2 linked regions of the Homo sapiens genome follow. Changing the gene in region 1 together with any one later gene gives a genetic interaction. Each region holds a gene or a part of one and is shown in the gene's direction. Other genes may lie near its edges.

Region 1 (3,650 bases):
CCGCTCTGTATGGGACAGGCCCTCTTCCAGGGGACACTAAGCCATTCACTGCCTGTGGGCCAGTCGGATATCCCCTTTCCAGAGAATGGGTGATGTGACTGTTTGCTTCTTAGCACAGTTGGAGTGACACAGGAGACTTGCGCATAGGATGGGTGCTCTGTGTACCGTCGGCATATGTAAGCGAGGCCTCGGCACAGGTGATTCGGCAAAGGGATTGATGCAGGTGTGGGTTCCCTCTGCTTCGTACATCCCTAGAAAGAACTCAGGGAAGCCGGCTTTACTGTTGGAAAATCACTGCCCCACAGCATCGGACTGTTTCTCCACTTCCCTCTCTCCTGGGTCTGAGAAGACATTAGGAGAGCAAAGTGTTAGCTCAATCCATTAAGACTCCTGCTTCCAGACCATGCCTCCGGGGATATTAGATGCCATAATGGTCATTTCTCTCTCTCCTGGGGCAGCAACTATATCATTCACATGTGAGTAAGAGATACCACTTACACACAGCCCCAGAGCCTTCTGCCAAAGCTCAGTTCCTGTCTCCATCACCCTGGCCCTCTCTCTAAGGGGCCTTAATAGGAGGCATCACAACCACTTGCTGTTGGAGGTGATGGATGGGCCTAACAGAAGAGGATTTCTGGGGGTAGACACACAGCTGGCACATGCCTGAATCCCACATCCCATTTTCTGGCACACGACCAAAGTAATAAAGAGGAACGGGGCAAAATAAAGAGGTAGCAGGAGCAAAATTACTTCCCCAGCATTGGCAGGGGTGGGGCTGACAGGGGAGGGGTGAGAGGTCACATGCTTTGTCTCCCCAGTCTTTGTCTGGTTTGGATCAGCAGGTGTTTTATTATGCAAAAGCCTCTTACTAGAGAGTTCTCTCCATTTTCTTTCTCAAGCCAGGCCCCAGTAAGGGACCAGGGGGCAGAAGTGCAGGCAGCCATCCTAGTCACCCACTGCAGGAGATCCTTCAGCACGACACTCTGCTGGGGGGCCCTCGGCCAGGCTTAGCTGGGAGGAAGGCGAAAGCCCCTGCCTTCATGCAGCTCTCTGTCTAGGGAGAGAGGGGCTGGGTGGAGGATGGTCTAGCAGTCAGGCCCACATGTGCTGGAGGCAGTGGCCTGGGGCCGGGTGTGGGAGTGAGAGGTGACCAGGCAGGCTTTCACAGAGAAGACATCTCAGGAGGGGACCCGGAGGAGGTGTGGGACTTCCCCAGTGCCATTACTGGCCTGAGCAAAGGAGGCTGAGGGAGGGAACTAATGTTCCCTGGACGTTTGTTATTTGAACATTTTCAGAGGGGACCACCCAAGGGCACAGTTGTGAGTCAGAGCTAGGATTTGATTGCCTTTTCCTCTCTGGCTGTGGGCAGGGGACAGTCAGAGGGCAGTGAAGGGTTGGACCACCCCATCCTCCCCCTTCCCCTCCCACCAGATCCCCTACACTTGCTCTAGGAGCCACCGCAGGAAGTCCAGAGTCACCAAATCATCCCTCGCCATCTCCTAAAAAAAAAAAAAAACAGGGTGACCATGTTATTTTGGGGGACGAGGACACTAAAAAAAAAGAAATGGCGTCTTAAGGATCACTGTGCTGGGACAACAGGGGAGACAAGAACACAAGCCTGCCCACCATGACACTCTCTGATGGCATCCTCTGCTGATCTGTTGCCAGAACTGTGCCCAGAGCCTCACCCTCCTCAGGAATATTTCCTTTCTCTTCCTGGTCTCACTGAAACCTGGTGCTCCTACACCCCTCCTGCCACTGGAGACATAGGAGGGGTCTTCCATGCTCCAGTACTTCTAGACTATTCTCTCTCCCTCCCTTCCCCGAATACACCCAGCTGTCGAAGTTTGTGTCGGGGGACTGCACCCCCCGACAGCCCCTCCCTGTTGTTGGCACCAGCACCTGTGCCCCCAGTCCTTGCGGGGATTCTGGGCTCACTGTCAGCCTCCCCAATGCTCTTGTCATATTTCTTGGTGATTGCAACATCCATATCTCTTTCTCACACCCCATTTCCGGTCTATCTGTAAATCCTATTGGAGCCACCCTCAGAAAACATCAAGAAGCTGAAGACGTCGCCTCACCTCCACCGCTACCTGCCCAATCCAGGCCACTGTCACGTCGCATCTCCTTTCCCTGCCTTTGCTTCCCCCATGGTGTCCCCCACACAGCATTGAGAGGGATCTGGCAAAAGTCAAATCACGTCATTCCTTTCTGCTCAGGACCCACCGCACAGAAAGGCCACAGCCCTTACCGTGGTGCACAGACCCACACCATCTGGGTATGGCCCCTCCCGTGGCTCCAGGCTGTGGCCACGCTGACCTCTTCGCTGACCCTCAGATAAACCAAAGAAGTGCCTCCCCTTAGATCCTCTGCCCTGGCTGCCCTGCCACTCGCTCCTAGACCTTTCCACACTCATCTCCTTCTGATCTTTAAGCAGATACTCCCTGCTGACAGCCACCTGTGTATTTTGTTCACTTTTTGGTTTGTGACCCTCACTAGAAAGTAGGCTCCACACAAGCAGAAATTTGCATCTGTTTCTATCACTGCTTTATTCCCATTCCCAAAAAAAGGTTCTCAAACTGGAGCATACATCAGCATCACCTGGAGACTCAATAAATCCCAGATCACTGGGCCCCACCCGTTTCCTGTTAAGTGGGTCTAGGGTGGTCCCAAGAATTTGTGTTTCTAGTAAGTTTCCATGCAGTGCTGCTGCTGCTGCTGCTGCTCGGGTCCACACTCAGAACCACTCACCCAGAGCAGTGCCTGCCCAGCTGGTGTCTGTCTTAGTCTGTTCGTGCTGCTGTAACAAAATCCCTGAGACTGGGTAATTTATGAAGAACAGAAATGTACTTCCTCACAATTCTGGAGGCGGGGGGTCCAAGAGCACTGCCCCAACCTTTGGTGTCTGCTGAGGGCCGTCCTATTGCATCCTCACATTGCAGAAGGGGGAAGGGCAAAGGGTCTTGAGAGTTCCCTGCAGTCCTTTTGCAAGGGTCTAATCCCCCTAGATTAGACCTAATCTAGACCTAATCTAATCTTATAATTAGATGGTAAGAACCTAATCACCCCATAAAGGCCTTCGATGCGTTGAGGATGAGGTTTCAGCATGAGTTTTGGAGGGGACACAAACATTCAGACCTTAGTAGCATCCACGCCATGTGTGTTGAGTGAATAAATACATGAGGGCGGAAGTGAAGGGTGTGGCTAGGAGGGGAATCCAAGCATGGAAAGGTAAGTTGGGACCTTTCCACTGAGGCCTCAAAGGCAAGACCCCAAGGAATTTGGCTACAGTGGGGGCATTAGGGCGACTTGCACCTCTGTGGGAGCTGGGGTTCTGGGAAAGGTATGAAGCGACGCAGCCACGGTGGATGCCATGCCTGGGATCCACTCCTGACTCTATCTTTGTCCCCCTAGAGTATGCAGAGAACATCGGGGACGGCCGGAGCCCGGAGTTCCGGGAGAACGAGCAAAAGCGCATCCTGGGCTTGCTGGAGAACTTCTAGAGGCACCTTGGCCCTGCGCATCATGGACTCTCTCAGCTTCCCTCCCAGGATCAGTTTCTACACAACTCTGTGTGGCTTTTGGACAAATTAAAGCTAGTTTTGGTATCCCCGGGCCAGTTTTCTTTGTAGTTAAGCTTCGCCTGCTGA
Region 2 (3,650 bases), on another chromosome or scaffold:
TGACTTTGGAATGAATTCCATGATTTTTGTTGGCATGAGTTTCTCCTTCCCAGTTAAAATGCATAGGCAAATGGAATTTATTTGCATTCCCTTAGCAGGTAATAATCTTACCACTGTCTGAGTGCTGTACAATTTCAGAGCACCGTTCCTTACACAGCTTCAGTTTCTGACTTGGGAATTATTCTTAGTTATGATGATGGTGAGGCTTTAGCAGGAACGGGGACTAGGGAGGCCCCCTCAGGAATTGCTGCTCCAGCTCACAGATGGTTTTGCCTGGCAGGAGCTGATGGGAACTTGGTATTGTTACAAGGTGAAACAACATAGTTGACATTAATGTCTCTTGATGTGGATAAGACACATTGTTCAACTCACATCCCTCTTGTCTGTCTATACAGCCCTGTTCATTTAAGCCCACCTGGCCTCTTTTTGGTGGCATGCTTATAAAAAGTAGGCAGTGATCAGTGGCTTGAGATTAAGGAAATGATAAGCCGTGTCTTTGAAAGCAGATGCTCCTATTTATAACTCAGACATCCTATACTTTTACATTCCATGAGGTGGGGAACAGGACATGACTGACCACAGGGAAATGGTGGCAGGGCAGGTGCCTCGCCCGTTAGAAGCCTGCCCTCCCTCCAGGCTGGGAAATGCTTATTGTTAGGCAAATACTGAGGCATGTTGTGGGGTACCTGCAGCTACAGGATAATGTTAATTCAGCTTTTTGTGTATTAAGTGCCTACTCTGTGGTGCTTATGTGCTGAGGATGCAAGACAAGGATCTCTGCCCTCATGGCTCACATTGTTGAGGGGTGGGGATGTCATCGTTACCTAAAGCTTAAGGGGGAAAGAGCCTTGTTCAGTGTACCTGCAGGCACATCTGCATGAGCTATGGCAGGAAACTGAAGAGAAAGCTGGGGGCTTGTGCCAGGCTCCACTCCCAGGCCTTTTGGGGTGTGTCTTCTCTTGTGTCTGCCATTGGGTGGAATTGGATTGCACGTGCACGCAGTCCGCTCCTCTGCACAGCCAAGGCTTTCTGGGGCCCCGAAATGAAACCTTACAGTACCTTGGAAGTCCAGCCTGGGTAGCTTTGTCCAGCCTGTCCAACCCGGGTACCCGAGGATCTGCTGTGACCCAGAAACATGACTTAGGTTATAGCCCAGCCCCCATTTTACTCACAAGGAACCTGAAGCTTGAGAGCTTGAGTGACCGGTGTGAACAGCAGGCCTGGGATTCGGATCCCTGTCAGCCCAAGTCATGTGCTGGACCCCACTCACTGTGTTTTCCAGAACACAGTGAGCAGAGGGCCCCGTAAATACAGGATCTTGTCCCATTTCCCCTTGCAGCAGATCCACCAGTGAGGGTGCGGTGTGGAATTCCAGGGGATGCAACTGCAAGATCACCCATATTGGGACCAGCTAGAGCCATATGCTATTTCCAGACCTAGGCTTTCACAGATTCATGTTTCAGTGGAAGGAAAGGGAGGTTTAATGGTTATGGAGCACCAGCCACATGCTATGCACTCTGTTAGAACGGTCCTCACCACAGCCTGACAAGGTAGGTTCAACTTTAGGCTGGAGGCAGCATAGTACAAGAAAATAGAGTTAGGAGCCAGACTGCTTTAGGATAACAGTACCTCTGCATAAGGTCGTAATGAGGGTTAAGTAATATCTGTCAAGTGCATCCAGTAGCATCTGGCACATAGTGATGTAAACATTAACTATTGTTATTATCACCATTTTCCAAAAGTGTGCAAAGGGGTGTATGGTTAGTCCCTGTCTAGCTACTAAGTGGAGGAATTGGGTTTTCTGACTCCAGAGCAAACCGTTTTTCTCCACTCCGTACTGCCTGCCGATGGCTGCTTTGGAGTTTGTCTGGCTCTGGGTTGTGCCTTGAACGCACAACTTACCTAATAGAGCCTGGGGCTCTTTTCTCCATTAAAGACAAGCTCACTGTGAGCTGGGCACCATGTGTTGCCAGAGCCTCATGCTATATGTCAGGCCCGAATTCCTTGTTTGTGCCAGTGGAACCCCCTGTGACTGGAGGGTTCCTGCCCTCTTCCAGGCTTGGAAGAAGAGAGACAGGGCTGGGGACAGAGCATATGAGCTCTGTGAGAGCAGGGACCTTGTCTGTTTGGTTCCCTCTGAGTACCCCACACCTTGCACTGGCCGCCTGGCACTTAGCGCCAGCTACATAAACACTGAGTGAGAGCTGAGAGGCGGCTGCCTGCTCCACAGAACATGGTCTCTGCAGTTGGGCACATCTGGATTTGAGTCCTGTCTGCCACTCAGCATGTGACTGTCAGTGAGGCGGCTAATTCCCTTGGTCTCAGTTTTCCTGTTCCGTCGCATGAGGATAACATTTTATAGAGATGGGGAGTAGGGGTGAAATTTGTAATGTACTTACTCCAGTGCTTGGCACACAGTAGCTGTGGTTGTTGCATGTCTTATTCTGCATACCACAGAATAAGGGACACAAATAGAAGCCATCATCCCTGTCCTCTAATCTGGGAGGGGGAGGCAAGATGCGTCCAAAAAGCCAAGTGCAGCAGGAATGAAGTAGTACTAGAAAAGACTTAGCCAGGGACCCATGGGTGCTGTGGTCTGCCCATCCCTGCAGGCCTGGCTTGCATTTCCCCCTCCTCCACGCAGCCCTGCAGACCACTCCAGCCTGCAGTCGGCTTGGGGGCTGGGCATGAAGCCTGGGAAGAGTGTGCTCAGGCAGAGAGGACAGGGTGGGGTATGGTCAAGGGGACTGGCACAAAAGCAGAGGTCAGGGGGTGTGGTCACACAAGCAGTAGATGCGAGCCCATGGGGTGCCTCAGTCTCAGGAGTGAGTTGTGGAGTGCCTGAGTTGCTAAGCTAAGGAGTTTGCATTAGATCTGGGACAGTGTGGAGCCAGTGAAATTTTTGACAGGGCAGGTAGAAATTCGAGGAGGCTGGCAGAGCGGTGGTATTTTAGGAAGAGCCCTCTGGCTGTGCATGCAGGAGGCCTGGGAGGTGAAAGAGATGGGAGAGAGGCCTCCACAAGCATCAGCTTGTGAGCTTATGAGGGTCCTGGCCACTGTGCAGCTGTGGGTGTGGAAAGGAAGGGATGGTGGAAGGAGATAAAGGCAGAGTGACACGGAATGATTTACCACCTCTGGAGCTGAGGGGGTCTGCCCCAGAGCTGTCCCATGTAGGTGTTCTGATTGGACAGTTTATCATTGACACACAGCTATTTCAGGTCAGTCTAAATCCTAGATAGTGGTGTCTGCAAAGCCTTGAGAGCCTGTTAACAACTGAATGGGGATTTCAGTCTGGGTAGCCCAGTGATCCATCCAGCCAGTGACTCTGTGACTGCAGGTGGCACCAAGTTCAGCCTGATGCACACAGCATTAGGTTCTGGTGCCTAAGACACCAGTCTGCTGAGGGAGATGGTGGGGTGGCGGGCTCTGCATGGCAGCTGTAGGAATAACAGAAGCTAGTTTTTTTTTGTTTGTTTGTTTGAGACAGAGTCTCGCTCTGCCACCTAGGCTGGAGTACAGTGGCACGATCTCGACTCCCTGCAACCTCCGTCTCCTAGACTCAGGGAATTCTCTTGCCTCAGCCTCCCAAGTAGCTGGGACTACAGGTGCGTACCACCATGCCTAGCTAATTTTTTGTATTTTTAGTAGAG

What was found. Genes that interact genetically often act in the same process or in processes that back each other up.
Region 2: changes in CTNNBL1 (region 1) and CAPZB together harm fitness less than expected from each alone (positive genetic interaction), as found in Homo sapiens cells (one large-scale study listed by BioGRID).

What each region holds. Positions count from the first base shown.
Region 1 is NC_000020.11:37,868,511-37,872,160, forward strand, and holds the end of CTNNBL1 (beta-catenin-like protein 1), read left to right. Parts: intron 1-3,414; coding exon 3,415-3,503; 3' UTR 3,504-3,608; downstream 3,609-3,650. UniProt on the Homo sapiens protein: Component of the PRP19-CDC5L complex that forms an integral part of the spliceosome and is required for activating pre-mRNA splicing.
Region 2 is NC_000001.11:19,479,040-19,482,689, reverse strand, and holds part of CAPZB (F-actin-capping protein subunit beta), read left to right. Parts: intron 1-3,650. UniProt on the Homo sapiens protein: F-actin-capping proteins bind in a Ca(2+)-independent manner to the fast growing ends of actin filaments (barbed end) thereby blocking the exchange of subunits at these ends.